2 linked regions of the Homo sapiens genome follow. The protein of the gene in region 1 interacts with the protein of each later gene in a pairwise test. Each region holds a gene or a part of one and is shown on either strand. Other genes may lie near its edges.

What was found.
Region 2: the proteins of ZNF18 (region 1) and TTC32 interact in binary tests that used the Homo sapiens proteins (3 or more experiments, as listed by UniProt).

What each region holds. Positions count from the first base shown.
Region 1 is NC_000017.11:11,991,188-12,007,428, reverse strand, and holds the start of ZNF18 (zinc finger protein 18), read left to right. Parts: upstream 1-9,953; 5' UTR 9,954-9,998; intron 9,999-10,056; exon of another isoform or gene 10,057-10,156; intron 10,157-10,318; exon of another isoform or gene 10,319-10,619; intron 10,620-11,749; exon of another isoform or gene 11,750-11,871; intron 11,872-11,902; exon of another isoform or gene 11,903-13,927; intron 13,928-14,517; 5' UTR 14,518-14,599; coding exon 14,600-14,986; intron 14,987-16,241. UniProt on the Homo sapiens protein: May be involved in transcriptional regulation.
Region 2 is NC_000002.12:19,892,830-19,909,669, reverse strand, and holds TTC32 (tetratricopeptide repeat protein 32), read left to right. Parts: upstream 1-7,686; 5' UTR 7,687-7,815; coding exon 7,816-7,964; intron 7,965-11,634; coding exon 11,635-11,801; intron 11,802-12,543; coding exon 12,544-12,683; 3' UTR 12,684-13,039; downstream 13,040-16,840.

The sequences.
Region 1 (16,241 bases):
ACCGAAGAAGAATTCTGGGTGGTGGAAGGTTTAAAGGGACATGGGGCCTCTTCCACAATCGCTCTAAGATTGTCACCTGTGTAGAACTCCCTAAGTTTTAAAGGATCCCTGGCTAATGAGATAAAGAAGCCTAAAGACTTCAGAAGCTTCCCAAATCTGCATCTGAAGGCTGCAGCTCTTTTTCTGGCAGGAACTGAAGCTCAAAAGGGAGATCAACATAGAGTCTTCACTGGGAGATGATGTCTCAGCATTTGGTGGTGAAGCTCTGTGACTGAAGCCCTGACCTCCTTCTTGGTAGAGGAGGCCAGAATCTTGACATCTTACCAGAACAGAGATTAAGCTCAGAGGCACATGCAGGACTCTAAAAAGACAGAAACAAAACAAAACAAAATAAAATAAAACAGTAAACATTGGCCTAACACACAAAACTACATTAATGGTAGTTAGCTATCTCTATGAGGCCACAGTCACAGAATTCCTTTGGGTTTTAATTTTTAGGTAAAAATATGATATTTATTACAGTATTACAGAATGTCTTACAATTTACATAATTAAATTCATTTAGTTGAGACTTTTATCATGTTTCTGATCATTACAGCTTTTTTCTTTCTTCTGGGATATCTGGATACTGTTGAAATACTGTGGCAAAAAAAACAGTATGGTAATATTTTTGCTCAGTTCTTTTTTTTGAGCTTCGGCACCTAGGTTGGAGTGTGGTGGTGAGATCATGGCTCACTGTAACCTCAACCTCCAAGGCTTAAGTGACCCTCCCACCTCAGCCTCCCAAGTAGCAGGGTCCACAGGTGTGCACCACCATGCCCTGGTAATAATTTATGCTCAGTACAAATAATTTTTTATTACTATTCTTTCTAGGAATCACCTATCCTAAAACACGTGATACATACAAATTACGATATCTCAATAACAGCTAGATTTTGCTGTGTGCCAAGGCACTGTTCTAGGTATTTTACATATATTGTCTCATTTAATTCTCTTAACAGTCCTAAGCATTAGGTGGCATTTTTATCTCTCATTTTACTAATGGGAGAATTGAGATGCATAAAGATGGCTGTAATATATTATTATATTGGGGATATTTATGTTAGGAGTTCCTGGATAAAAACCAGCCCAGAAACCTAGTTCTGTTTTAACTTCTTCCAAAGGCCTCCTGATTGCCAGTTAATTGTATTACTCCCTGTATTATTATCCTTCTTGCCCACATAAGTTTTGGCAACTAACATCTGTTTGTGTCCTGAAGTTTGAATTAATAGACAATTATTTATGAACATGGATTTGAATGCCACTCACAGATCAGTGCCAAAAGCATCACTTTGGAAGTTGTTAAAAAATCATACTTCCAGGCTCTACCTCTCAGATAATCTGATTCAGGAAAGAAGTCAAAATAATGTGGAATTAACATGCCCTCCATGTGAGTCTGATCTGCAGCCCAGTTTAAGAAGCTCCCAGATCTAGAACAGGGAGATCTACACTTTTTTGATCAATCATTCTTTTCTAGTAAAAGTATTTTGAGACTATGTAGCCACTGTTTGTATATGTATTTATTCATAAATAATATATACAGGTATTATTTTGCCTACATGTTGTACATTATAAAACATATTCAAAATTGAAAGTTAAAAAGTCTATGGTAAAAATGGAAAAATAATATTTTAAAATATGTATCTTATTTATTGAATAAAGTTCTCACCAGAAATATAATACACCTCATTATTTGAGCAAATCTTTAATACTCTGTGATACAGGAGTTTTAAAGTCGGGTTCTAAATTCAGTTTATTTTTGACACTTAGTTATAATGGTTGTCAAAAGTGAAAAAAGAAACCTCCCCAAACCTCCAAATGGATAAAGTACATCATTGGCAGCAGATACTAAGAATGATATTTGTTTTTCAATGCCATCTGGTAATTAAGCAAAAAATTTTGATGAAATGTGGCTACTAATTTCCATAGTCACTGATGTGAGTCAGTAGCTCTTGCAAACTAATTGGAAGAGACATTACATTTTCATAATTTTTACCGATGGGCTTAAAATGAAAAGCACAAAACTTTTTATACGGAATATTTTGTGTATTGATTTTCATGTATGAGAACCTCAAAAGAGGCCACCAGTTTCCATTTGATTTAATGAAGTTTCATAAAGTACTTGATAGAATATGACTTTAAACTTTGTTGAATTTCCTTCATGTTCTATATATATAATATATATGCATATATTAGTATCTGTGTATATGTATTATCTGTATATATAATCTGTATATATATAACTTCTGAGTCCATAACATGCATAAATATATATACATCACACATACATGCATATATATTTATATATACTTATATAAAGGTACAAATATATACACACGTATTTAAACTTAGTGTGTGTATAAATATATATTTAAACATTTAAAATCTAATTTACAAACTCAGTGTAAATATACACATAAATATACATCTTGTTAAGGTGCCATTCAGTATAGTGATAGAGATATAAATGCACATTTCTTTTCTTTTTTTTTTTTTTTTTTTGAGATGGAGTTTCACTCCTGTTGCCCAGGCTGGAGTGCAATGGCATGATCTTGGCTCACTGCAACCTCTGTCTCCTGGGTTCAAGCTATTCTCCTGCCTCAGCCTCCCAAGTAGCTGGGATTATAGGCATGCGCCACCACACCCAGCTAATTTTTGTATTTTTAGTAGAGACATGGTTTCTCTATGTTGGCCAGGCTGGCTTCGAACTCCCAACCTCAGGTGATCTGCTGCCTCGGCCTCCCAAAGTGCTGGGATTACAGGCTTCAGCCACCGTGCCCGGCCATAAACGCACATTTCTAGTAGATTTCTTAATATTTGAAATTATTTTGCTTGGCTTTGGTCGGATCTGATTCATTGGCATTATCATTACCTTCCAATGTATCTGCAAAAGGACTCAAGTTAGAAGTGTAACTATGCTATTTTATTGCTGTTTACATGTGCCTGCATTATTACTGTTATCTTCAAACTGAGATTATTTTGTTAAGAAACTTTAAACTAGGGTTAGTTAAATGTTAAGAAACATTTTGCTAGGGTTAGTTTAGTTAAAACTAGGTAATATAATCCATAAATCCACTGATTCCTGCACATACTAACTTCAGTATGTCTCAATATGTTGAATAAGTGAAAATGTAAGGACCTCACTTTTTTTTTTTTTGAGACACAGAGTCTCGCTCTGTCACCCAGGCTGGAGTGCAGTGGCGCAGTCTTGGCTCACTGCAACGTCCATCTCCCGGGTTCAAGCGATTCTCCTGCCTCAGCCTCCCGAGTAGCTGGGATTACAGGCGTGTGCCACTGCACCCGGCTAATTTTTGTATTTTTAGTAGAGACGGGATTTCACCATGTTGGTCAGGCTGGTCTCAAACTCCTGACCTTGTGATCCGCCCGCCTCAGCCTCCCAAAGTGCTAGGATTACAGGCGTGAGTCACTGCACCCGGCCCAGGCCCTCACTTTTAACTGCTCCATGGTGTGGGCCTCCTCACGTTCCCTTATGGCACCTTCTATATCCTGACTCAAGCCTGTTCAACATATGTGCAAACTAAGGAGCTGGCCAGTCCGTTGTATTCAATACCAGTGAAGCTTAACTTCTTTGTCGTGTCTCCAGGCCCATGGATTCAAAAGCTCAAAGGGGTCTGCCTAAGCATGGAATGACTTTTTAAATTTGAGAAAAATACCCATACCTACAAACACTTGCATACTGGGGAGTTAGTCATTGAAATCCTGAAGTCTCAGATTGAGAATACCTTGTCTAAAGACATTTTACGGCCTCAGGGAAAAATTTCATTTGGTGAGAGATGCATCAGGATTTATCCACCATATATACTTTTTTAAGGTATGCACTTTAGGGCTAATCCAGGCTTCTGGCCCTGTGTGTCACTTGTAGGCACTATAGGAAGTCATTTCCTAGCCCCACCTGAACCTTCTTGAACATCTTTTTTTTTTTTTTTTTTGAGACAGAGTCTCACACTGTCACCCGGGCTGGAGTGCAGTAGCACTATCTCGGCTCACTGCAACCTCTGCCTTCCCAGGTTCAAGTGATTCTCCTGCCTCAGCCTCCTGAGTAGCTGAGATTACAGGCGCCTGCCACCATGCCTGGCTTATTTTTTGTATTTTTGGTACAGATGGGGTTTCACTATGTTGGCCAGGCTGGTCTCGAACACCTGACCTTGTGATTCCAAAGTGCTGGGATTACAGGCGTGAGCCACCACGCCTGGCCTCTTGAACACCTTAAAGATCTCCTCTAGGACATCCCACATAAAACGTGATGTATGTTAGTATTTCTCCTAACTAGAGAAAAGCAGTTACCATCTTGTTTAATTCTCTGTTCTCTCAATAGTCCTTAAAAGACAATTCAGTTTCCTTCTGCCATGAGTTAAATCACTCTTTGCTCTATTGAAGTCAACAGGATACAAACTACATCTTGATGGCAGAGGGAGGGTGTCGGGAGTGGTTTCTGTTCTGGTCTCCCTTCCTTGTCCGTGTGGTAAGCCATTTCCACACAGCTTACACTGATATCCTCCATTGATGCCCAGGTTCCTTTCACCTTGAGTCAATCCGAATCTTTCTGCTCCTCAGTTCCAGGGAATTTTTGTTGAAATAACTGATCTGGCCCACAACAATCTCATGTAATTTAACTTCATCAATATATTCATTTCAAGTTCTCACAGTATCTCCCATGATAGTTTGCCCAAACCTTATACAATTTCTTTGAACAGCTTGTCCTGTTAGCCCTACTTTATCCTGGGACAAATGCAGCAGACAGAGGGCAGAGTATGGGATCTGCAGTCAGAAAAAGCAGAGTTTAAATTCAGCCTCAGTAACAATGTCTGCAGCTTTCAGTTACGCTCTTACACACTCTGGATCTCGATTTTCTTATCTCTACAATGGGAACAAAGATATTTGCCATGTCTGACTCTCATCAATGTTAGACTATTTTTTTCCCTAATTAAAAAAGTTAATATCTTTTTTATTTTTTTATTTTATATATTTTTTTGAGACGGAGGCTTGCTGTTGCCAGGCTGGAATGCAATGACACGATCTCAGCTCACTACAACCTCTGCCTCCCGGGTTCAAGCTATTCTCCTGCCTCAGCCTCCTGAGTAGCTGGGACTACAGGCGCACACCACCACGCCCAGGTAATTTTTGTGTTTTCGGTAGAGATGGGGTTTCACTATGTTGGCCAGGATGGTCTCAATCTCTTGACCTCATGATCCACCCACCTTGGCCTCCCACAGTGCTGGGATTAACAGGCGTGAACCACTGGGCCCAGCCAAAAAGTTAATATCTTTTAGTTTGTAAGAAATAGACTTGATCCTGCAGTTTTATTTTGTTTTCTCCCTCCCACCTTTCATCCTTTCTTTCTTTCTTCTTTTTTTCCCACAAGGTTCTTTTGCTCTATTGCTTTTACTTTTTTTTAAACCTCTTCGAACAACTCAGAATTTTTATTTTAAAATATCTTTCAGATTGCTCTATTATCTCTGAATTTTGGAGTGCATGTGCTTTCATTTTTTTAGTAACTAGTGATTTTCATTTATAATAGATTTTTAAAAATTTATTTTTAGTTTTAATTCATGAATAATAATTATATATTTATGGGGTATAATGTGACGTTTTGACATAGGTATACATTGTAAAAGTTTAAATCAAGTTAATACATTCATCACCTCACCTACTTATTTTTTATGGTGAGAACATTTAAGATCTACTCTTTTAGTGATTTTGAAATATACTTTGTTTGTTTGTTTGTTTGTTTGTTTGTTTTGAGACGGAGTCTCTCTGTGTCCCCCAGGCTGGAGTGCAGTGGCGCAATCTCGGTTCACTGCAAGCTCCGCCTCCTGGGTTCATGCCATTCTCCTACCTCAGCCTCTAGAGTTGCTGGGACTACAGGCACCTGCCACCACGCCTGGCTAATATTTTGTATTTTTAGTAGAGATGGGGTTTCACCATGTTAGCCAGGATGGTCTTGATCTCCTGACCTTGTGATCCGCCCGCCTCAGCCTCCCAAAGTGTTGGGATTACAGGTGTAAGCCACCGCGCCCGGCCCGAGGTATGCATTATTATTAACTACGGTTACCACACTGTGCAATAGATTGCTAAAACTTACTCCTCTTGTTTAACTGGAACTTTTTGTACCCTTTGATCAACACCTCTCTATTCCCCGTTTTCTCTGTACGAGGATTTGTTTTTGGTGTGGCTTGTAACTTTTGACTTTAAGCTCCTCTTTAGTGGAGATTGTTTTCTGTGAGTGTTCCATGTGGCCTAGATTATGTGAGTACCCAGAAGCCTTGTTATTCAAAAATCAATCTCTACTCAAGAACATTTTTCAGTAATTGTCACTTTTCTCCCCTTCCATACAAATTTTTCCTCCCTACTGGATCATTCTAATCAGTGTGTAAGCATGCTGTAAGATCTCCTAATTTGTCTCATTTTGCTATTTCTTTTTATAGCAAAACTTCTTGAATGACTTGTCTATATTTGCTGCTCTAATTCTTCTCTTCTCGTTCCTTATTGAACTTATTCCATTCAGGATTTCTCTACTCCCAACCACTCTTATAAGGTCAAGGTCACCAGTGATTTTATACTCCTGTTGCTCAGTCAATTCTTAATCCTCATCTTACATTTGATCATGGCATTTGATTAGTTGATGATTCTTTCTTTCTTCCTTTCTTTCTTTCTGACAGAGTTTCGCTCTTGTTGCCCAGGCTAGAGTGCAATGGTGTGATCTAGGCTCACTGCAACCTCTGCCTCCTGGGCTCAAGCGATTATGGGTTTATACCTTTTCTTAAGGTGCCAGTTTGTATATTACAGGCGTGCACCTCCACGCCCAGCTAATTTTGTATTTTTAGTAGAGACAGGTTTTCTCCATGTTGGTTAGGCTGGTCTCGAAGTGCAGACCTCAGGTGATCTGCCCATGTCGGCCTCCCAAAGTGCTAGGATTACAGGCGTGAACCACCACACCCAGCAATTCCTTCTTTCTTTGAACACTTTATGCAGTTGGCTTCCCGGATACCACTCTCTGTTTTCCTGCTACCTCAGTGGCTCCTCAGTTTCTTTCTCCTTTAATAGATTTTTCTTATTACCCTGACCCTATATGTTGGCGTGGTCCAGGGCTTGGTCTTTATAGTGCTTCTCTTTATTGTCACTCATTGTTTCATGGCCTAAACGTTTATGGGTGGGCCTGGTGGCTCGCACCTGTAATTCCAGCACTTTGGGAGACTGAGGTGGGTGGATCACCTGAGGTCAGGAATTTGAGACCAGCCTGGCCAACATGATGAAACTTCATCTCTGCTAAAAATACAAAAAGTAGCTGGGCACGGTGGCAAGCATGTGTAATCCCAGCTACTCAGGAGGCTGAGGCAGGAGAATCACTTAAACCTGGAGTCGGAGGTTGCAGTGAGCTGAGATTCTGGCACTACATTGGGCAACAGAGCAAGATTCTGTCTCAAACAACAACAACAACAAAAACTTTTGCAATTTCCTCTGCCTGGAGGTTCCCACAGATACACGCAAGGCTTGCGTCTTAATTAACTTCCGGTCTGGATTCAAGCCTGTTTTATCTGTTAGTCCTTCCCTGACCATCCTATATAACTTGCACTCCATCTCTAACAGTACCTCTCCTCCTTACCCCAATGTAATTTTCTTCACAACACCTATAATTACCACTTGTGCACTTATTTATTGTCCAGCTCACCCTACAAAATATAAGTCTTGGGAGGGCTGGGACTTTGTGTGTTTAGTTCATTCTTGCATATATAGCTATTGGAAGAGTGCTGGGCACATCATCTGGTAAATATTTATTGAATGAGTAAGTGAATAATAGAAATAGATGACACCTTTTCATTATTTCCTAAGCTGAGGTAGATATCTCCCTATTTTAAAAAATATTTTGATTGTTCAGCCTGTTTCGAAATAAGTGTTTATGCCTTTTCCTAAGGTGCCAGTTTATAAAGAAATTATTAAACTTCAAAGTGTCATTTTCATATCAGGAACCATCTACCAGGATTAGAGTTCTCAAACTGAGGTTTGTGGGTTCCAAGGATGGGTTTCAAGGCTGTGTTAGCTCCCTGGATTTGAGTGCAAAGTGTTGTATGTAGATGTGTATGTGCATTTTTCTTGGGAAAAATTTTACCTTCCATCAGATTCACAAAGGAGTCAGAACCCAATTAATGGTTTTGAATTACTGTTATCTTCCTTGGGTGTTGATCAGCTAAAAGCGAACACATTGAAGATAAAACTCCTATAATCTTCCCCTCTAAACCACCTTATCTCTTGACTTTCTTAGAAGCAGAGCACATTGATGTTGGAAGCAATACCCAATGAAGGTGTCCCTCTAAATGTGCCTGGTAAATTGTTAGCCATGCTGTCCTCAGGAACTCAAAGCAGCGCCATCAATCACATGAATGTTAGAAACGTCCAGCTAGGTGCCATGGCTCATGCCTGTAATCCCAGCACTTTGGGAGGCCAAGGTGGGTGGATCACTTGAGGTCACGAGTTCGAGACCAGCCTGGCCAACATGGTGAAACCCCGTCTCCACCAAAAATACAAAAAAAAAAAAAAAAAAAAAAAAAGACTAGAAACTTCCACCTATGTCAGGCTGAAACAGTAGTTTCACACATAGGATCTTGTTCAGACCCTGGGACTTAAGAGAACATGTCGAATCCCTTTTCCGCTGGTCACTTTTCAGGTACATGAAGATGTAATCCCATCCCCGCATCAAGCTTTATTTCTCCAGAGGAGGATCTTTAATTCTTGTAAACATGGGACAGGTACAGGACATGTTATGATAATGACAGGTACAGGACATGTTATGATAATGACAGGTACAGGACATGTTATGATAATGACAGGTACAGGACATGTTATGATAATGACAGGTACAGGACATGTTATGATAATGACAGGTACAGGACATGTTATGATAATGACAGCTCTTCTTTAAATTTTTATTTTTTATTTATTTTATTTCCATAGGTTATTGGGGAACATGGCAGCTTTTTTTGAATACCCTCCTCTTTGCCAGTTGCCCAAGGTGGAACACCCAAACTTTGACATGATACTTCCATTAATGCAACTTAGTATCACAAGTTGATGTCGTGGCCCAGCACAGGATGGCCTGGAAACCGGCAACACTGGACGCTGGGGAAAGGGTAAGAAGGTCTTGACCATTACAAATGGTGTGGAACTGAGCCGAGGGAGGGATAGTGAGAAGGGAGAGAGGGTGAGGTGTCTGAGAGACAATGAGGTCAAATCAGAGGATTCAGCCATTGTTGGCGTGTGGGAAAGGGAAGGAGAAGGGAAGAGTCAGGGATGACATTTGTTGAGAGAGAGAGAGAGAAGAGAGAGAGACGCAGGTGGAAAGAGGATGGCACCACATTGGACTAGCCCCAACGGAATGGGGAGAAGTGGGAGAGGACCCAGGGGATGCAGAGCTGATGAGAGTGGGAGAACCAAGACAGAGGAAGAAGGTTGGGGCAAATCAAGTGTCTCAGGGAGGCCCAGTGAGGCAAGAACGGAAAGGAGAAAGGCGGCGGTTAAGAATCAGGGATAATGGCAGAGCGTTGCAGCTCTGCGGGTGGGACTGGGCGGAAGGGTTTGGGAGAGACAAAGAAATGATCTTTGAAGGCCTCGCAGTGCTTGGCCGAGTGCCTGGCACAGAATAGGTGCGCAATAAATGACGGGTGAGAAGTGAAGGAACTCAGGAACAGTGATTAGTGAGTGAGTGACGGAAGGAACGGAGGATGGCGTTGGCTCGGGAACCTCGCTGCCATGTCGGTGGAGGCTCCTGGGCTGCAACGCCAGAGAGAGGCGGGGCGTCCCCGACGGCCAATAGGAGCTTCGGTATCAGCTCCGCCCCCGCCCCCTAGCTCCGCCCGGTGCCGCACGTCGTTCGCCTGCCGCCTGAGGCGCGCGCAGCCACCCAGCTCCCGGAAGTGCGCCCGGAGCCGGCGCCGCGGGCCGAGGTGAGCGCGCTTGCGGGGCGGTCCCGGCCTCCGGCCGCTCGGGGTCAGGCCTTGCGCTATCTGCGTCCGCACCTGACTCAGCTGGGCACCCCGGAGCTACGGAGGGGCCAGCGGGCTCCCTTGCCCATGCGTCTGGGAGCGCGCGGGGGACGTGGCGAGTGCGGGGCCGGGGCAGCCATGGCTGGGAGTGGACCGTGGGTGCGGGGGGATGTGTGAACCCCGTCCCGGCTCTGCATTCCTGCGCCTCTGCGCCCCGCGGGACCGGCCGGGTCTCTGCACTGGGACCGAAAACGGGCTCCTCCCCGCTGTCTTCCCCTAAGGGCTGAAAATGAGTCTCTGGAAGAGGAAACCCGATGGGATGATGCCTGGAGTCTCTCCCTCTCTCATCAGAGTGCAGTCGGCATTTGGGGGGCGCATGGTGGAGAATACATATCCAATGAGCAGCGCTGCCCTGGCCTCGAGCACTAAATGCCAGTTCCCCTAGCTGCTTGTGACAACCAGAAAACGCCCCAACAAATCACCAGACGTTGGCAGTTCTCCCCAAAGCAAAGGCTTTAGAGCTTCCTGGGTTAATCTGGCTGCCACTTGTGAGCCTCGGAGGTTCCTGATCTGTACACCAGGGTAATTGTGGGAATTGGAAATACATGAACCGAGCTTAATAATGAGCCGATACGTAGTAGGTGCTTAACAAATGGTTACTTATATATGTAACCATGTATGTAACCACTTGTGTATATTACACCTAGAATGCACTTTTAAAAATTCATTCTATTTGTTAAAGGTTTAATAACAGGTATAACAGACAACCTTATTTTTTTTTCATAACTAATGGGGGCAGTTCCTCATGAGGTTATCGGAATATAAACTCTATTAAATTTTTAATACTATATAAAGTAATTTAATTTTGAATAATCGAGACATTTTTCTTACACACTACCTGGGAGTATAATATTACTAACAAAAGATTTAAGTATTTTATAAAATCTGTAGTTTTTCCAAAATGTCATTTCTCTTAAATATTATCTAAACTGCTATCTTAATTTAGGAAACAGATAAATTGCAGTAAGTTTACAGGTCGGTATCTTGCTATCTAAAATCTTGCCGCTTGTTATTTGAAACTCTTGAGCCAAATAGGTTGGATTTACAAAGCAAGGTATTTTTAAAAATATATTTATTCGTTTTTTAAGATGTTATTTGAAACTGTAGGTTTACCTCTGAGCTAAAGCTGCTTTTCAGGTGGTTTGATAATGCTGTCATTGTCACTCAGTATGAAAACATATTTTAATTTCCTTTGTGATTTTTTTCTTTGACTATGGGTTAAGAGCATTATTTAGTAATTTCCATAAATTGGGATTTTCTAGTTATTGTTATTGATTTCTACTTTAATTGCACTATGATCAGAGAATATATTTGAACCCAGGAAGCTCTAAAGTTTTCCATTTGACCTTTCTGGTTTTGTTTCTCTTGTGTTCCTTTTCTATCAGATATTGGGTTTTTGAGTGTTTTTTGGTATTGCTTTAATGGCTTTTTAGCAATACCACTTTGCGTAATATTTTTAGAGCTAATTTTAAGATATCAGTCATTTGAAAATTATGCATATGGTCTGTTTTGATGAATACTCTTTGCACTTGTAATGAATGTATACTCTGCAGTTCTTGGGTCTAGTGTTCTGAAAATGTCAATTAGAGCAAGTCGGTTGATAGTGTTCAGATTTTTTGACTTCACTGACTCTTTTTTTTTTTTTTTTTGAGATGGAGTCTCCCTCTGTCGCCCAGGCTGGAGTGCAGTGGTACGATCTTGACTCACTGCAACTTCCGCCTCCCAGGTTCAGGCTGTTCTCCTACCTCAGCCTCCTGAGTTGCTGGGATTACAGGTGCGCACCACCATGCCCAGCTAATTTTTGTATTTTTAGTAGAGATGGGGTTTTACTGCGTTGGCCAGGCTGGTCTCAAACTCTTGACCACAGGTGGTCCTCCCGCCTAGGGCTTCCAAAGTGCTGGGATTGCAGGCGTGACCCACCGCGCCTGGCCTGGGTTTCTTTTTTTTTTTCTTGCAGTGGTGTGATCTCGGCTCACTGCAACCTCTGCCCCCTTGGGTTCAAGCAATTCTCCTGCCTCACTCAGCCTCCCTGGTAGCTGGGATTACAGGCATTCACCACCACGCCCGGTTAATTTTTGTATTTTTAGTAGAGATGGGGTTTTGCCATGTTGGACAGGCTGGTCTTGAACTCCTGACCTCAAATGATCCCCCTGCCTTGGACGCCCAGAATGCTAGGATTACAGGCGTGAGCCACTGCGCTCAGACCTGGGTTTCTTTTTAAGCAAAAAATAAATTTAATGAGGACCACATAAAAAACATTTGGTATTGGATTACGGTTGCAAGGGTCCATTTATACAAGGATTTTCATCTGCCTCTGTGACTCCTGCGACTGCAAGACCAACCCTTCCTTCTCCTTCTCCTGTTCCTTGTCCTCTTCAGGCTACTCAGTGTGAAGATGATGAAGGTGACCACCTTTATGGTGATTCACTTCCACTTAGTGAATAGTAAATGTAGTTTCTCTTCCTTATAATTTTCTTTTTCTTTTTTTTTTGAGACGGAGTCTCGCTCTGTCGCCCAGGTTGGAGTGCAGTGGCACGATCTCAGCTCACTGCAAGCTCTGCCTCCCAGGTTCATGCCATTCTCCTGCCTCAGCCTCCCGAGTAGCTGGGATCACAGGCGCCCGCCACCACGCCTGGCTAATTTTTTGTATTTTTAGTAGAGAAGGGGTTTCACCGTGTTAGCCAGGATGGTCTCGATCTCCTGACCTTGTGATCCAGCCACCTCAGCCTCCCAAAGTGCTGGGATTACAGGCGTGAGCCACCTGGCCTGGCCTCTTCCTTATAATTTTCTTAATAATATTTTGTCTAACTTACTTTATCACAAAAATACAGTAACATGCAAAATGTATGTTAATCAACTATTTAAGGCATCAGTCAATAGACTGCTAAGCTTTTGGGGAATCAGAAGTTATATATGGATTTTCTACTGTGTGGGGGGTTGGCGCCCCTATCTCCTGCATTATTCAATGGTCAACTGTAATTCTTTTGACTTCGCTTTTTCCTTTCTCAGGCCCTTGAAAAAAAATTGTTTTTCTTTTTTAGTTTTTAAATGATTTTCCAATGTCGGATAAATTATTTTGGTGAAACGGTAAGGATGAAGACATTGTTTCCTACACCTTAAGAAATAAGCAGCTACAAAAAGCTAGAGTATTGTACTGATCTCTGATTAAGCCAGATCCTCAAGTGATGGGGTATCTTTTTTTAAAAATTGCTGTGATTAGTCTTAGGGAGAAATGATGACCACCAAATTCTTCATAACATTTAAGGATTTACCCAGTAATCCTATATTGTGATTACTTGCAAGAAAGTTAACTAGAAGTAGTGGATGATCCTTTTTAGAATAATATTATTTGCGATTTAATATTTCTCTTTCTACTGTCTTAGTTGTGATCTTCTAAAATTTGATACCATTCACATAAAATAGTGATTATTTATATCAACACCATAGGAGTATTTTCAAGGTAGTTAGTCTTCTCAACCCTCTTTTTTTTTTTTTTTTTTTTTTTTGTGAGACGGAGTCTCTCTCTGTCCCCCAGGCTGGAGTGCAGTGGCGCGATCTTGGCTCACTGCAAGCTCCACCTCCTGGGTTCACCCCATTCTTCTGCCTCAGCCTCCTGAGTAGCTGGGACTACAGGTGCCCGCCACCATGCCCGGCTAATTTTTTGTATTTTTTTTTAGTAGAGACGGGGTTTCACCGTGTTAACCAGGATGGTTTCGATCTCCTGACCACGTGATCCACCTGCCTCGGCCTCCCAAAGTGCTGGGATTACAGGCGTGAGCCACCATGCCCAGCCTTCTCACCCTCTTTAACCCCAAGGTTGAAAGTGTCAGGTATGATACTTGTTTTTTTCATAAATTCTCAAATAGACCTATTTTAATATGGCACTCAAAAGACCTCTCTTGGAAGTTTCATTACACCTTTTTGGTATACTTTTGGAAGTACTTTTGGTACCTTTTGGAAGACTTAACTTGTTCTCTTTAACCTCCTATTTATTACAGAAGCATGTAGGCATTAGCTTTTATTCCTAGGGCATTAATATCTTTTTCCAGCTTTATTTTTTAGTATGCAGATATATAGATGAAGATGTAGAAGTGTTTTGTAGAAGAGCCGTTTACCTGGAAACCTATAGTGAAAAAGTTTCGTATGGTGCATTTTATTCTTCATTTTGTCTGGACATTTGAAGACCAAGAAAGAACATTATAAAATGGGCAGGGAAATGGTGGCTGTTTAGATACAGTATCAGTAGTTTGCTTTGTGGCTTCAAGTTTATAATCTTTCAAAATAGAATCGTGTATCCATTGAGCAATTTCAAAAGCTCCATAGTTGACCCCATGGCTTCTCGGGTAGGGCATGTGAATTTGTTCTTTCTGAAAATGTGTCCCCTTCCTCTGTGTAGCACTCAATCTCATTCCCTTTTTAGTGTCCTGGTGAAGACCTAGTTCTTGCCGGAGACAATTCCACTGCAGAAGCACTTTACTTAAAAGGACTTGCCAGGCTGGACAATGCCCGTTGACTTGGGGCAGGCCCTAGGCCTGCTGCCATCGCTGGCGAAGGCCGAGGACTCCCAGTTCTCAGAATCAGATGCTGCCCTTCAAGAGGAACTCTCCAGCCCTGAGACCGCACGCCAGCTTTTCAGGCAGTTCCGTTACCAGGTGATGTCTGGGCCTCATGAGACCTTGAAGCAACTTCGGAAGCTCTGTTTCCAGTGGCTACAGCCAGAGGTTCACACCAAAGAGCAGATCCTAGAGATCCTCATGTTGGAGCAGTTTCTGACCATCCTGCCTGGGGAGATCCAGATGTGGGTGCGGAAACAGTGTCCAGGAAGTGGAGAAGAGGCAGTGACCCTTGTGGAAAGCTTGAAGGGGGACCCCCAGAGACTGTGGCAATGGGTAAGCAGAGGGTATTATGATCTGCGAGTGAAACACAGGGCTCCTCTCTGGTCCCATCAGGTGTGTTGTCTTTTTTCTGATACCACTTATGACACAAAATGGGTGGGGCTTTTCACACCAATGGCCAATTCTGTGATTCTCTAACACCAGTACAGTGTCCAGCAATTCAGTTCTGAAGCTAACTCTGGAGGTTCAGGGCTCAATCCAAGACTGCTCCTGTTCTCAGATGCCAGTCACAAGTCCCAGGGGCCACCTGTACTTCTGACAAATTGGCTATAAATTCGGAGGTTCCCACAGTCTTCTCTTCAAGTTTGATAATTAGTTAGAATGACTTACAGAACTCAGGGAAGGATTTTACTTCCTGTTACTGACTTACTCTAAAGGATACAACTCATTAACAGCCAGAGAGAAGAGCTGCATAGAGCAAGGTGTGGGGGAAAGAGCGTGGAGCTTCCATGCTTCTCCTGGCGTGCTACGTTACCAGTACCTCCATGAGGTCACCAACCTGGAAGCTTCCTGAACCTCATGGTTTAGGGATTTTTATGGAGGCTTCACTGCTTTGGCACACTTGATACAGTCATTTGCCGTTGGTGATTGAGTATCTCCAGCTGCCCTCCCCTCCTCAGAAGCTGGGTGGAGATACTGAAAGTTCCAACCTTTTAATCTCAAGGTTGGTTCCTCTGGCAACCAGCCCCCATCCTGAAGCTATCTAGGAGCCTAGCATAAACTCAGGTGTGGTTGAGAAGGGCTCCTTATGAATAACAAAGACTCTTCTTTCACCTGTCCCTCAAGAAATTACCAGGGTTTTAGGAGCTCTGCGGGAATGGGAACTGGGGACAAAGACTAAATGTGTATTTCTTATTATACCACAGCTGGGTTCCCCCATACCTCACGTAATTCTAACACTCTCTGACTCTCAACACTCTTTAGCTATTGAGGATTGAGGGTAAAGTCTCCCAGCGCATTCCACCTTTAGACTAGAATGTTTGAGAAGTTATTTAAAAGATGCCTGAGTTTTCATTGGTGGCGCATATCCAGTAGAAGCACGTTAGTGGCATGTCTTGAAGGTCTCCCACGCCTGATTCGGGCCTCAGCTTTTGGTGTCTTTTGGGACGTTTCTTTCCCTGGTTCCTGCTGGACTAGAAATAAAAGCTGGTTTTCTCTTTCTCCACATCCTTAGAAATTGTCTTATGATCTGTTGTAGAGAGTAAGCTTTGTGTCTTTTAGAGATCCTTACTCTGGATTCTTCAGTAAT
Region 2 (16,840 bases), on another chromosome or scaffold:
ACGTGGTGAAACCCCGTCTCTACTAAAAATACAAAAAATTAGCTGGGCGTGGTGGCGGACGCCTGTAGTCCCAGCTACTTGGGAGGCTGAGGCAGGAGAATGGCATGAACCCGGGAGGCAGAGCTTGCAGTGAGCCAAGATAGTGCCACTGCACTCCAGCCTGGGCGACAGAGCAAGACTCCGTCTCAAAAAATAATAATAATTAAAAAAAAAAGCAAAAATGTTCATGGCAGAAATTTTCAAAAATACATAACGGTATAGATGAGAAAGTAAAATTAGTTGATCTTTATAAATAAAATATTTTAGTTGAATGTAAGAGATGAAAAAAACTGAAGTGACACTGAAGGAATTTGTATAATTGGTTTCTTCGTACCAAAATCAGTATTTGTTCTTAAGAGATTTCTTTAAAATTAAAAGAAAGTAGACATTAAAAGGCTTTGGGAAGCCAAGGCAGGCGGATCACAAGGTCGGGAGTTTGAGACCAGCCTGGCCAATATGGTGAAACCCTGTCTCTACTAAAAATACTAAAATTAGGCAGGCATGGTGGCGGGTTCCTGTAGCCCCAGCTACCTGGGAGGCTGAGGCGGGAGAATCGCTTGAACCTGGGAGGCGGAGGTTGCAGTGAGCCAAGATTGTGCCACTACACTCCAGCCTGGGTGACAAAGCAAGACTCTGTCTAAACAAAAAAACAAAACAAAATTATTTAGCTAATTTATTGTTTGGCAGTTTAAATTTCTAGGTAGTAAAATTGAGAGAGATTTAGAAAAAATGAGATGCTTCTACACACTACAATGGCTAAAATTGACAAGAGAAATAGTGAGGGTATAGAACAGCTGAAACCCTCATACATTGCTGATGGAAATGCAAAACAGTACACTCACTTGGGAAAAGTTTGGAAGTTTCTTCTAAATTTAAATATACACTTAACATAGAACCCAGAAATCTCACTCTTAGGAATTTACCCAGAAGAAATCAAAACACATTTACAGGAAGACTTGAATGCAAATGTACGTAAGTTTTATTTATAGTAGACAGAAACTGGAAAGAAACCAAATATCCATTAATATGTGAATGTATAAACAAATTGTGGACTATCCACACAATGAAATACTACTCAGCAATAAAAAGGAATGAACTGACACAAGTAACAACATAGATGAATCTTAAAAGCATTGTGCTACGTGCAAGAAGCCAGATATAGAAGACAGCATACTGTATGATGTTATTTATATGAAATTCCAGAAAAGACAAAATCATAGAAAGTAGTGCCTGAGATCAGGGAGAAGGGTAGGTGATTGACTTCAAAGGTATACAAAGGAGCATTGTGGGATGATAGAAATGTTCCATATCTTGGTTTTGGTGATGATTACATGACTCCACATTTGTTAAAACTCATCAAATTGCCCATTTAACATTGGTAGTTTTATTTTTTTAATAAGAGATTTCTATTTTAGTTGAATTTAACAGAAGAAAAAGAAACTGAGGTGAGACTGAATAAATTGCTGTATTATGTCTTTATGCTGAGAGATATCAGCTCCTAAGAGATTTCTCTAAAGTTAAAAGAAATTAATGTCAATGATACCTCCAGCTGATTGAAGTCCACCCTTTCCACACTGATGTGCAATTATATGGGAAAAAAATCAAGTCCATATATGTAGGTAACAATTTCTGATTTCTTTTTCTGTTCCATTGATCTGTTTGTCTTTCTTTGGCCCAAAGCAGAATGTCTCAGTTATTATAGTTTTTAAAATAGGTCCTGCTATCTGGTACAAGTCCTCCTTTGTTTTTCTTCTTCAAAAATGTTTTGTCACTCTCAGTCCTTTGCACTTCTTTTCTACATATACAACTATATAACCATGTTTAATGACTGCTTTTTTTAAAAAAAATACTTCTCAATTGTCATGTCTTTCATTTCTTTTTATCATCTTATTGCACTGGCTAGGATACCCAATACAATGCTGAATAATTAAAGTGATGATACTGGGCATTCTTGTCTTATTCTTAATCTCAAAGGAAATTTTTCAATATTTTAAGAAATCATTGCTTATTATATTTTCTGTAGACATTTTGTCGGTAGGTTTTAATAAGTATGTCTTCTTGTCCTAGTTTGCTAAGGAGTTGAATTTTATTAACTGCATTTTCTACATCTGTTGAGATTTTTCTTCAATTTGTTGATGTGGTGAGTTAAGTACTACAAGCAAGAATACTTGATAATGCTAAAAACTGCTATTCACAGTGACAATGTAACATGTAAGAGTATCTGTAGACATAGATATAACACCTAATATCTATGCTCGTAGCAACCACCTTTATAAAGCAGAAACTGCAGTGGATGCAACAAAATCAATAGAAATACAGTAATAATGACTTCAATGCAATGTTGTTGCAACGATCTTTTTACAGAAAACACACTTGCCACTTGATTTTTCCATATTTTTTATGTGATGAAATAGACATAGCACAAAATTTACTATCTTAATCATTTTTAAATTTTTTTTAAATTTTTTACAAGACGTGGTCTAGCTCTGTCACCCAGGCTGGAGTGCAGTGGCACAATCATAGCTCACTGCAGCCTCAAACTCCTTAGCACAGTAATCCTCCCACCTCAGCTTCCCAAAGTGCTGGCATTACAGGCATGAGATCCTGCACCTTGCCTATCTTAATCATTTTTAAGTGTACAGTTAAAGTGGCATTAACTATATTTATTAAGTACATTCATATTGTTCATATTCCACCACCACCACCACCACCACCACCACCACCACCACCACCACCACCACCATCCATCTTCAGAATTCTTTATCTTGCAAAACTGAAACTGTATGCTCATTGAACAATAACTCCCTATCCCCCTTAAAGCTGTCCCTGGCAACCACATTCTACTTTCTGTCTCTATGAATTTGACTACTCTGGGTACCTCATAAAAATAGAATCATTCAGTCTTTTTGTGGCTGGCTTAATTCACTTCATGTAATGTCCTCAAGTTTCATCCATGTTGTAGCACGTGGCAGAATTTGTTCTTTTTAAGACTGAATAATATTCCATTGTATGAGTATACCATATTTCGCTTATCCACTCATCTGTTGATAGACACTTGGATTGCTTCCACATTTTACCTAGTGTGAACAATACCGCTATGAACCTGGATGTGTAAATATCTCTTTAAGACCATGCTGTCAGATATTTTGGGTATATACTTAGAAGTGGAATTGCTGAATCAAATGGTTATTCTTAGTATTTGAAGAATTGTCACACCATGTGGTTGCACCATTTTACATTCTCACCAATAGTGCATAAAGATTCCAGTTTCTTCACATCCTCACCAACACTTATTTCTTCTTAATAGTTTCCATCCTACTGGAGTGGTGAGAAGTGGTATTTGATTGTAGTTTCAATTTGCATTTCCCTAATTATTAGTGACGTTGAGCATTTTTTCATGTTCTCATTGGCCATATGTGTATCTTCTTTAGAGAAAAGTCTATTCAAATCCTTTGCCCATTTCTGCATTGGATTGTTTTGCTTTATTGTTGTTTTTGGAAGTTCTTTATATAGTGTGGGTATTAATCCCTTATCAGATACATGACTTGTAAATATTCTGTTTTTTACTCTGATAGTGTCTTTTCATGCACAAAGGTTTTTAAATTCTTGTCAAGCCCAATTTGTGTAGTTTTTTCTTTTGTTGCCTGTGCCATTGATGTCATATTCACAAAATCATTGCCAAATTCAGTGTTGTTAAGCTTTTGCCATATGTTTTTTCCTAAGAGTTTGTAATTTTAGTTCTTATATTTAGGTCATGATCTATTTTAATTTTTGTATATGGTGTAAGAGACCAGCTTCATTCTTTTGTAGTGGATATCCAATTTTCCTAGCACCATTTGTTTAAAAAACTGTCTTTATGCCAATAACACACTTGTTTTGGGTAATGCAGCTTTGCAGTAAGTTTTGAAATCAGGAAGTGAGTCCTTAAACTTTGTTCTTTTTCCAAAATTGTTTTGGCTATTTGGGAGTCCTTGTAATTCCATATGAATTTGAGGATGGAGTTTTCTATTTCTGCAGAAACATCATTGGGATTTTGATAAGGATTCCATAGAATCTGAAGATTGATTTATATAATATTAACATCTAAACAATATTAAGTCTTCTAATCCATGTACATGAGATGTCTTTCCATTTATGTCTTCTTCAATTTCTTTTAGCAATGTTTTATAGTTTTAATTGTACACATCTTTTACTTTCTTGATTAATTCCTAAATATTTTTTTCTTTTTGATGTTACTGTAGATGGAATTGTTTTCTTTTCTTTCTTTTTTTTTTTTTTGAGACAGAGTCTTGCTCTGTTGCCCAGGCTGGAGTGCAGTGGTGCAAGGCACAATCTTGGCTCCCTGCAACCTCCACTTCCCAGGTTCAAGTGAGTCTCCTGCCTCACCCCCTGAGTAACTGGGATTACAGGTGCCTGCCACCACACCTGGCTAAATTTTGTATTTTTCGTAGATACAGGGTTTTGCCATGTTGGCCAGGCTGGTCTCGAACTCCTGACCTCAAGTGATCCATCCACCTTGGCCTCCAAAAATGTTGGGATTACAGGTGTGAGCCACTGTGCCTGGCTGGAATTGTTTTCTTAATTTCATTTTTGGATAGCTTCATTGTTAGTGAATAAAAATGCAACTGATTTTTGCATGTTGATTTCATATCCTCCTACCTTGCTGAATTCATTAGTTATAACCATTTTTTAAATGGAATCTTAAGAAGGACTGGTGTTGGTTCTTCCTTAAACATTTAGTAGAATTCATCAGTGAAGCCATCAGGTCCAGGGCTTTTCTTTGTCAAGAGGTTATTTTTAGATTACTGATTGAATCTCCTTACAAGTTACAGGTTGATATGGTTTGTGTGTGTCCTCACCCAAATCTCATCTTGAATTGTAGCTCCCATAATTCCCACATGTTGTGGGAGGGAGCCGGTGGGAGAAAAAACTGAATCATGGGGGCAGTTTCCCCCATACTGTTCTCATGGTAGTGACTAAGTCTCACAAAATCTTATGGTTTTATAAGGGATTTCCCCCTTCACTGTTCTCTCATTCTCTCTTGCCTGCTGCCATGTAAGACGTGCTGTTTGCCTTCTGCCATGATTATAAGGCCTCCCCATCCACGTGGAACTGTGAGTCCATTAAACCTCTTTTTTCTTAAAAACAAAAAAATTACCCAGTCTTGGGTACGTCTTTATTAGCAGTGTGAGAACAGACTAATACACACGTCTATTCATATTTTCTATTTCTTCATGATACAATCTTCGTAGGTTTTTTGTTTCTAGGCATTTGCTCATTTCATGTAGTTACTCCCATTTTTCAGCATACAATTGTTCATAGTACTCTCTTATAATCCTCTTTATTTCTGTAGAATTGATGGTAATGTTCCCATTTTCATTTCTGATTTTAGTAATCTGAGTCTTTTCCTTTTTCGTAGTCAATTTAGCTCAAGTTTTATTAACTTTTTTAATCTTTTTAAGAACCAACTTTTGGTTTTGTTGATTCCATTTTTGTTTTATCTGTGTTTTGATCTTTTATTATTTTCTTCCTCTGCTAGTTTTGTGTTTGCCATTTGTTCTTGATATTTAATGTTAATAAATGTTTTACTTTTTAATAAATCTGTTAATATTCCAACTGTTTTTTAATATAATTCCTTTCCTTTGTAATCCTATGTTTTAAAAACACTTGAAAACATTGAAACGACATAGGCTTCACCACACTTGTAAAGGTGCCATAGCACAAAAAAGGTTAAGAATCTTACTCCTATTTAGAAACCCCCTTCCCAAATCCCCAATTTCCATTACATATCCTGCTATTTTCCTCTTAGATCACTGGTTTTTAGACACATAAATATTCCTGTTATTCCTTGAACAGAACAAAGCAAAACTTCTAGTCAGGTGCGGTGGCTCATGCCTGTAGTCCTAGCACTTTGGGAGGCTGAGGTGGGCAGATGTCTTGAACCCAGGAGTTGGAGATCAGCCTGGACAACATGGGGAAACCCATCACCACAAAAAATACAAAAATTAGCTCACTGCCAACCACTTCCACCCAGAAGGGATTCTTGTGCCTCAGCCTCATGAGTAGCTGGGATTACAGGCACCCGCCACCACGCCCAGCTAATTTTTTGCATTTTTAGTAGAGACGGGGTTTTGCCATGTTGGCCAGGCTGTTATCAAACTCCTGTCCTCAGGTGATCTGCCCGCCTAGGCCTCCCAAAGTGCTGGGATTACAGGCATGAGCCACAGAGCCTGGCCATCTCCACTTTTTCTTATCCCCCAAAAGGATTAACATCCCTGGCTTTATGTAGAATAGTGTACGCTGCCACATCAGTGTTTGAGTCATTCCCCAGAGGAGAGGGGAATCCCCCCTCCATTTTTTTTTTTGCAACATCTTGTCTTCCCTTTGCTGTTGCTTCCCCCAACACACTTGGTTTTGTTCTATCCTGTACTTCAGATTTGTTTTTTGTTTTGTTTTTTTCATATTGAAAAGATGACATTGCTCCAAGAGGCAAAAATAAATGGGAACTGAAAAAAAAAAGCTTTTTATCTTATTTATTTAATCTTTTAATTCACCTGGAATGAATATTATGTCAATTGGGAGCTTAAATGCTTAAATGTATTTTTCCCCAAATGGTTAACTAATCCTCCCAATAGCACTCATTTGAATAATCTGTCCTTTCCCCATATATGTTACATGTCTTTTACAAAATACAGCCTATTTGAGGTATGTTTCTGGGCTTTTGTTCTATTGAGCTGTCCATTTGCTTACACCAGAAATGCCAGTTTATTTTTTTGTAGTCTTGCAATCTTTTAATTTCTACTAGTGCTTTTTAATTTAACCTTAATCCACTGTATTTGTATTTTTTTCAGTGGTGGTAAAAGGAAAAAATTAAAAATCTAATGAAAGCAGCCAAAAGCACACAATTTATGTCCTGTTAAGACTTCCGCATGTAAGTATCATGCTCCAAATATATTTTTCATCTTTACTTTTTATGACGGAAAGGGCTCAAGTACTTTGGGAAGCAAAACAGAATCGAGGGACGCCGAGAAGATACACAGCAGGCATGTAGGGTAGCGTGGTTGGCAACTGTTCTTACAAAATTTTAATTTGAATTATACGTAATGTACGTAATAAATTACTATTTGGATTTCCCTTTGGCATAAACAGCCAGGGAATATAACTAACATCAAAGATCCCAGACTCTCGACACAATATACTACTAATCGTAACACAATTCTAGAGGGTCAAAAAAGGTAGAGAAGTTTGGACCGTGGAACAGACCTGGTGGAATGTCGACACAAAGCGTTTCAGGGTAGACAAAGCCTACTCAGAACACCCTAAACGCGGAGTTTTGCTAAGTTGGGACGCTAAAAGGCAAGGGAATGACAGGACGTCCGCAGGCTAATTCGCCATTAAGAAACAGAACCGCGGCTTCTTCCACCTCCAGCGTCATCGGCCCCCAATTCGCTGTAACAAACGGATAGTGTCTCGCAGCATCAGACAACGGACTTGGAAATCAGTTTGCGACCACGCATCTGCGCCTTTTCTAGGAAAAGAGGAAGGCGGGTCCAACACTGGTAACGGCAGAAACATAGTTCACAAGGGCCACTGCAAACGCCCCGCCAGCAGCGGAACCGTTATCTCGCGAGACGACGGATCCCCATAAGGCACAAACCTAGCGCCAAGGTTGGCTGTCAAGGTAGATTCCAGGGTGTGGAAGTGGCTTTGTGGTGCCACCTCTAACCGCTCGGAGGTCAACCCCCATTCTACACCGAAAACTAGGCCTTGGCTGCTATGGAAGGACAGCGGCAAGAAAGCCACGCAACCCTAACACTCGCCCAGGCTCATTTCAACAATGGAGAGTACGCGGAGGCCGAGGCACTGTACTCCGCTTACATTCGCCGGTGCGCTTGCGCGGCCTCCAGCGACGAGAGTCCCGGGAGGTAACTATCGCGAGACCTGGGGCCGCGGCGACCCCGGGTGGAGGCGACGTTGGGGTTGTTTGGGCTCCTATCTTTGCCTCTGGAGCTCACGGTCGGCGCTTGTCATAACCCAGCACTAGGACTGAGCGGGCGGACGTTCGTCTTTCTAGAAAGGCCTAGGCGAGGCCTAGGACGAGGGCGGCGGAGAACGCGGGGAGAAGCCCACCCGTGAGGAGCCAGCTGCCGCGACGGTGCGGAGAGATTTCCGGGAACCAAGCCCTCTGCGCGATCCTCGGGCGCGGGCCGCCGCCTCTCACCCCGCCGTCTCTCCTTCCACGTTCCTCATTCGCACCCAGAGACTTAGGACAGATAGGAATTTTCCACTCGTGATTTTAGCTGGCGGGAAATCCGCGACCTGGGAAGGGAAGGGGTCACGGCTGCGTAGGGCCACAGTACCGCGACTCCCATCTCAGTGTCACGGCGCAGGCTCTTGGTGGTGTTTTTCACTTGTGAAAAACGTTTAAATATGTGGAAGAGAGCATAACGAACGTCTAGGTGTTTATCACTTGGCTTAAGCATTATCAGTTTACCTATTGTATTCATCCATGGATGTTTCAGAAGGAACCACCATGTCATCATCACATAGTTACTTAATATCAAGTCGTCAGTGTTGGAACCATTCTGATCGACTAATAAGGTGTTTTGTTCTTTGGTTCCCTTTTCGCAGTTAGTTCAAGTCAGGATACACATCAAGTCTTTTTAAGTCTCTTCTCCACCTTCCCCTCTTTATTTGTTGAGGAAACCGATTCTTGTGTCCTTTGAATTTCCGTGTTTTGGACTTGCTGACTGAATCTCTTCTGTCGTTTAATGTGGTCATCTGTCTCATATTGCTGTGAATTGGTGGTTAAACCTTGAGGTTTGATCCAATTGAATTCAGATTCAATATCATGGCAAGAATACTTTTTAGGTGGGTGTGTGTACTTTCACCAGGAAGCACATAACGATTCGCTGACTTTCTCTTTGTGATGTGAGCGGCTTCACCTGTTACTGTCTGCTTGCCCAAAGCATCTTTTCGGCTTGTGCCTGGATGTGTAGCATTTGTTTTTACTCCAAGTCTTGCCTCGACTGGGCTTGTTGATGGTATGGAGTGGATCAGGATGAGAAAAGAACAGAGGGGTTGGTTGAACAGCTTTTTGAATAGTTGTGAGTTGTCTGTTGTGGATTTGAGTTTTCTGGACAGGATGCCAGCTTGTCTTTTGTATGAGGCTTAACTAAACACTAAGGACTTGATTCTTACCCTGTTTGTTACGCTACATGGAATTAAACCAGAAAGAAAATTGCCTTCTCATTTCAATAACACACAAGAATAATAATAGAAGTTTCTGAACAGGCAATAAGATGATACCATCTACTTTCCTCAGTGCACCTCCCCCATAAAAAAGATAAGTAAACATAGAAAGCGAAACTATTCATGTTTCAAGCTCTAAGAGTAGACTTACCTAGTAGATTTTAAAAAGTATTTATCAGCATCAGGTATGCTGTTGCTGTCTAGTCTTGTTATTCTTCCTTCTTTGCACCTCTCAGCCTAAGAACACAAGTGTCTGTAGCATATATAATAGCTATGCCTTACCAGCACAGGAAAGACAGTTTGTCATAGCGCAGTAGAAGGGAGTTCATCATGCCTGAATTCCAGTCTTGGCACTGCCACATGGCTAATGTCTCAGCCTCAGTTTTTCATCTGTAAAATAAGCTTTTGATAAAATTCTAGGAACTCAAGGATTGAAACTGAATTCTGTCATTTCAACTTTTTCCCTTCAATTTATCTTTTGGAGCTTACATTTATTTTCTAAGTATTGGGTCACTAAATCATTTTGAAACAATATTTGCAATTTTTGAATGCCTTTCATTCTGAATGGTTTGTGACGTTTTCTTTTAATATCTAAAGTATAGCTTTAGTCATAAACCTAATTTCCAAAGTGTGTGTGTATATATATACACACACTTTATATATAAAAAATATATATACACACACTTTATATATATATAAAAAATATTTTTTTTTGCGAAAGTTAGCAAATCCTAAAAATTCACATTTGGGTTAGGTAACTTGAATGAATTCCATTATAATAAATACTATCATTACAAAAATTTTAATATTACAGAAAATTTCGGCTTCAACTGTTAGTCCATTTCTTTAAAATATGAAACAAAATTTCCACATGAAAACGATTTTAGAATTTGATTTAATGAGATCTAATTCTAAGTCTAACATTTTATGATTCTCTATATTACGAATATATAATTAGTATTAAAAACTTATAACAATAATTTTGAAACTTCGATTTAATGACTAAAACCTTACTGGCATCCTGAGATTGCTTTTTTCTTTAAACTCTCTACTGGGAGCAGTTCAACTAGTGTCATGTCACACATAGGTGAAGGGGAGTGGTACCGTCTTGTAATCTAGGTTTTAACGGGGGTGCTTAGTGGCATCCAGAAGTATCCCTACATCCAGTCTCCATCACAGCTCATAGAATAGACGTTTTCTAAAATTGCGACAGTTCCTCTCCATCGTTAGCAAACTTGGTTTGAAGGAGGCCCTTGGGCTGTGAGTGCCTCTTAGGGTAGCAGTAGTTACAGTCCCTGTCTGAAATCTCAAGGATCAAGATATTAAGAGAAGTAGCTTTTATTTACACTAACTGCCTTCACAGATACTTTCGGAGGACTATACTTTTTACTACGGGGTATTACAAAGAAGTGACAGATGAATTCTCTGTTTGGTTCTAATTTGAGAATTGCTTTGGGAAAAAAGAAAGGGAAACAGAATCATCCCTGACTCAGAGCAGAGGCACTAATGTTCTCTGTGCAGACTATTTGTCCTGTGCAGAGAAAGGTTCAAGGCAGCCAGGGGCTGTGACCTGTTGAGCTGGTGGCTGGTCAGAGCTACCTGGCTGTACAGCCCAGGAATGGCTGCTAATTTAAAGCTCTTTGGGCAACCTCTAGTTCCCTCAGGTGCAGAGCCAGTTCTGCACAAAGGACATCAAAATTGACTGGAGCCCTGAGGGGGTCTAAAGGAGCCCACCCTCCTAGCAGGAAGCCAGCCTGGCATTGGGGAGGATGCCAGCTGAGGCTGGAGGGAGGGCAACTCTGTCCCCAGAGATAACTTCCTGGGGATCGTAGCATGTTGAATTTTCACTTAGCGTTAACTTTAGTTTTTTATTGGTGGAAAATGATTTCAAATCTTATTGTTTTAAGATCACTTAAAAATTTGAGAATGAAATTGATTCACATTGTGACATATCCATAGCAAACTCGGGCTTTGGGCTGGCTTTCCCTCTTTGCTTAGTATTTATCTGTTCTGTCTTCTTTGCCCTGCTGGTGTGTGCTTAGAAAAATGAACAATCATTTTAATGTTATATTCAGCAGAACAAATTGGCAGTGAACACACTGTAAAGTTAGTATGCTTTTCAGGTTGACATTGCAGTGGTATAACCCTACAAAAGTAGATAACAGGGTTAAACAAAAATTGATTTTAGCTCTTTATTTGTACGTTTTTTCTTCAGCTTGGATTTTCAGTGTTGATGCTGCATGTTATAGGCTGTGAAGTTTGACAATACCCAAAAGAGAATGAAAGTGGAAATGAGAGGAATTTGGTAACACGGTGTTTTTAATGTGAACTTTTTGTTTAAAGCAAATGCAGCCCTGAGGATTTGGCTACTGCATATAACAACAGGGGGCAAATCAAGTACTTCAGGGTTGATTTTTATGAAGCCATGGATGACTACACATCTGCCATAGAAGTCCAACCCAATTTTGAAGTTCCATATTACAACAGAGGGTTGATACTGTATAGGCTGGGTAAGAATTTTTTTTCTTTTTGAGTTTTGTCATTGACTGTATTCTGTTATTTCAGAGCTTTCAAATGTTGTAAAACTAACGTGGTAATCAAATTTTAAAGTTCTGTGAAATTTAGGTTTAGAGCTTGGAACAAAGGAAGTGTCCCTGAGTTTATTTTAGGCTTTTGATAGGCGTTATAGATCACAGCAGAGCACTGGGGTGGGAATTGGACCTGGGCGCAGGAGCAGGGGTGACCCCATTACTTTGTGCTTGTGCATTCCCAGCTGTGAAATGAGGGCAATTCAGATGTTCACCTGTGAAACTTTTCTGAGTTAAAATCTTTGAAGACACACAAGACAATAGAAAGTGAAGTTTAGATTCTTGGATTAAAGGGACCATAGGTAGTGTTTCTTCATTTAAAGTGTCAAAAAGAAAATTAGTTCCCGTTTCTTAATTTTACTGCAATTATGTAAAACAGGTGATACAGTTTTATTAAAATTTTAAGATGATTGATAATATTTACCTGTTAAATCTCAATAAATAAACCCATAGCTAATTTTAGGTGTATTATTCCCTAAGGGCACACAAAATTACTTTGATATACACATCTCTATATTATTAAGATAAAAAGATTCCTTTACTAGAAGTGACTGAAAGCTCATAAATATAAAAGCAAAAGTACATGTATCAAAGCTTTTCCATGAATAATATATAGAAATACTCGGTTTCTTTTCTCTTTTCCATTTTTTGGGTTCTGGTACAGGATATTTTGATGATGCTTTGGAAGATTTCAAGAAGGTCTTAGACTTAAATCCTGGATTTCAAGATGCTACTTTGAGCTTAAAACAGACTATTCTAGACAAAGAAGAAAAACAAAGAAGAAATGTTGCAAAAAATTATTGATATTTTTAACTTAATGGAAGTATTGATTCATGATCCTTACATCTGCATCTAGTTATCAGTAATTTAGATATTGAGCTATTTTGATTTATATTTAAGAAATTAATACATTAGCACTGAAAGTTAAATAGTGTGTTTAAGGTAGTTAATTTCAGGTTGAATGGGTTTTTTTTAATGAAGTGTAAATAATACCAATGTATAAGTGTATATTATTATATTAAATATTATAGTAAAAAGGAATGTGTGGTATTTTCTTCAGCAAAACTATTTTTGTGATTTTTTTATTCTCAACTTTTTATTTAAAAAATGTTACATCTGCAGAAAAGTTGAAAGTATAATAAACTCTTCAGTTAAATTCATGAGTTGTTAATATTGTGCCACATTTGCTTTTTCTATTTAAATATATAACTTTTTGCTGAAACATTTGAAAATAAGGTGACGAGGTCACAGTACTTCGCCCCTAAATATTTCAGCCTACATTTTCTAAGATTGAGGACATCCTCCTTTATAACCACAATACCATTATAATACCTAATAAAATGAATAATTCTGTAATGTCAGCCATATCCAGCCCATATTCCAAAGTGTGTAGATTTTTATTTGGATCTAGAGCCAATCAGGTTTCAATTGCATTTTTTTTTTTTATGTTTCTCTCAGTTCTTTTAATCTAGTCCCCTGTCCATTTTCTTGCCCTAGCATTGGCTTTGAGAGAAAGGCTATTTTATATAGCTAGGCTAGAGAGACATAACATTTAGGCTTAAAAATAAACATGTCCTACAATTTGAAAGAGTTCAGCTTGAATTACACTTGATTTTCTCAAGTAATCATTGATAAAAATAGGTTAAGATTTAAATATTGAACATATTTTCTGTCTCTGGATAATGACAATTGTTATCAACATTTACTGAATACTATAAGCCAAGCACTGTTCAAATCTCCATAATAATTTGGTGATCAGGTAGGAATGTATAGAGAGGTGAGGAAATGACAAAAAGCACTTAGTAAGTATAAAGTTTAAAAATCTTTTATTTTGGTGCTGCCAACAATTAGGCCCTTATGAAGCTATCAAAAACCGGGAAGAACTTGAAGGGAAAACAGACTAACACCAGCCATATGCCATCTACATTTTTTGTATTTTATTGTTGTTTGGCTTCCAAAGATTCCCAAACTAGTTTATTACTGCTATGGAAAAGCTGTTCTGTGGTGGAAATTACCCGAATCAGGAGAAAGGAAAGTTTGCTTTGTGTCTTCAGAGGAAGGCGCAGGGTAACTTCTGTGGCCTCAGATGCAATCAGCAGCAGCAGCCTTAAAATGCTTTTTTTGTGTGTGTATGAGTAATCTCATGAAGCAGAAAAAGTAATTGCCCTGTTTGTAGCTCATAAGTAATATCTGGCAAAATACATGGAGAGTTTGGGCTGTAGGTAAGTGAATATTAAGAGGAAATTAAGTTTCATGGCCTAGAAACAAAGTCTCTGTTTCTGGAATTATTCATACTTTCCAAAACGGTTTATCTTATATTTGTTGGAAATCTAAAAAAATTTCTAAAATTGCATTAAAATGTAGAAAAATCCTTAGGAAAACTTTTTTTTTAAAAAAGCAAGTTTCCTAGACCTTGGGAGGGAAAGCTTTAAGCCATTCCACCCAGAGAAGCAAATGCTTAATGTTTAATTTTATTTTCTCTTGACTCATATTCTCTTTACTCTTGACTGGGATCAGATGGAATATGAAAAGGAAAAATTGTTTAACATTTTCATGTGGTTTGTTAGATTATATTCAAAATTTCTTCATCCTTTATCAGAAAAAAAAAAAAAAAAGTCACTTAAGTTCAGAATCAGCAGTTGCTGATTGTAGACCCAGGCACTCATTTTCTCTTGTCTTGTTACTGGAAATAAAGAATAATTCATTTACCTTGTTTAGCGTTGAAACTTTAGGCATTATTCAGATTCTAAGTTTCTGATTGACCAAATAATACCTTGGATATTTACCTTAAAATATATTCATTACCGTTCATATTTCCCACATTTCAGTATTCGTTATTTCCTTTTTCTACTAGAAAAGTAACTTATGTTTTCTAATTTTTTCCTTTGTAAAAACAAAAGAATTGTGGTTTGTTATAAGGTTTCTCTTTCACAAAGTGAGGTAAGATAGGATAAAATGGATTTAAGTTACTTTTGAGTTTAGAATATTACTCCTAACAGTAGTTGAAAAGTGTGGAGCTATTTGTTTTTTTCTGAAATTTGGAACTGAATAAAACCCTTTACTTTATGATAGCAAAGCAAATATCCAAGTTAGTCTTTAGTCATTATCTATTTGCTCTTTTGCTCTGTCATTTGCTCTTTTGCTCTGTCTTTTTTGGTTTTCTGTTTTTCACTGGCTTCTCTACCCTCTGAATCCTAAATGTAGCCTTGGCTCCCTGTCATTTTGTAGGTCTTAAATCTTTCTCCGTGGGCATGATATATTTCAACCCCACCTACCACTCAGCGTTTACACTGATTCTTGTCTCAATGTCTCCCTTTCTGCTAAGTCTAGCCCCCTTAAAAATTTAACTCAGAAGTAAACAGTTTGTATATAAACCGTAATAGCATGTTTTTTTTTTTTCTTTTTTGAGACAGGGTCTCACTCTGTTGCCCAGGCTGGATTGCAGTAGCTTGATGACAGCTCACTGCAGCCTTGACCTCCCTGGGCTCAGGTGATCCTCCCACCTCAGCCTCCTAAGTAGCTTGGACTATAGGCATGCGCCATCATGCCCAGCTAATTTTTGTATATTTTGTAGAGATAGGGTTTCACCACATTGTCTAGGCTGAGCATGAATGTTTACTGTGCTAGTTTTTTGTTTTATTGAGAATAATTCATATATCATATAGTTTACCCATTTAAAGTGTACAGTTCAATGGTTTGAAGGTATATTCAGAGTTGCTGCACCATTTTTTCAAGGTTTTTGGGTATACTGGTCTTGCATGCAAACTGCACTTAAAGTTACAACACAGAAAAAATTTTATGCAAATTAATGACTAAACATGAGAGTGTTTCAAAAACAACAGCTCATGCACAAAACAGATCTAAGAGTCCTAAAAAGTGCTGCTTCTGGCTTCATTCAAATATGTGGCACGATTCCACTTTGTCTCATGTGATGCTCTCTAACTAGAAATGTGTTGAGTAAATCAGACGGCTCATCTCTGCCTGAAATGGATGCTGAATTTAGTGTGTTTAGGTTAACATATTGCTACGCTAAACAAATTGTTGACAAATGTGTAATAGCTTTTCAAGAGCATAGTGAAAAGTTGACTGAATATTTGCTATTTACGCTAGGTGTGTAATTTTAACAATTTCTATATAAATTCACATTTTGGTGTTTTCTGTGTTTCTAAAAAATGTGACAGTAAATTGTGAGAACAGAATGCCCATAATTTAAAATGGCAGTTGGTAAAAGAGGGAGAGTGAGATTTGTTAAATTTCAAATCTAATGTTAAGGGACTTCAAATGACACCATTTCACTCTACAGAAAGGAAAGAAGGATGAGTATAGTCTAATTTCTGTTTTTGAAAAAACAAAGCAATTGATACAATTAAAACACATAGTTTATCCTTTTTAAAATCACAAGAAGGTAAAAGAACACGTCATGTAGCAAGACAAATTATAAAACAAGCAACCTGTAAGGAAGCCCCGAAACTGAAATTATGAATGTGGATATAAAAGTAAAATAGGAACACAACAGTGTAATCCCAGGTTTATATGTGTCATCACAAAATCATAAATATAGCAGTTTAGTGAAGGTCTTATTCTGCATAGAGGATGAAGCTAAGAAATTGAGTAACTTGTGCAAGGTTGTGTCCAAAATCCATATAAATATTTGAAACTGCAATGAGTATCAATGTTTTTGCTGTTGGCATCAACTCACAGCAGATATGTGGACTTTTTTTTTTTTTTTTGGTCCTGATAAAAAATTTAAATTGCTCATAAAATGTTTTAGTACCCAGCAAAGTGAGTATCAGAATAATATTAAAGTATGTTTTTAAATAATGGAATGTTATTGCAATGCCCACATTGCTTGGTGGTCATTTTTCTTATTAAAAACAGACACAAAAGATGGTGAAAAGCAGATTAATTTTAAGAGCAAACTCCATTTGGAAACTAGATAGCTACAGCTGCCAATATGTAAA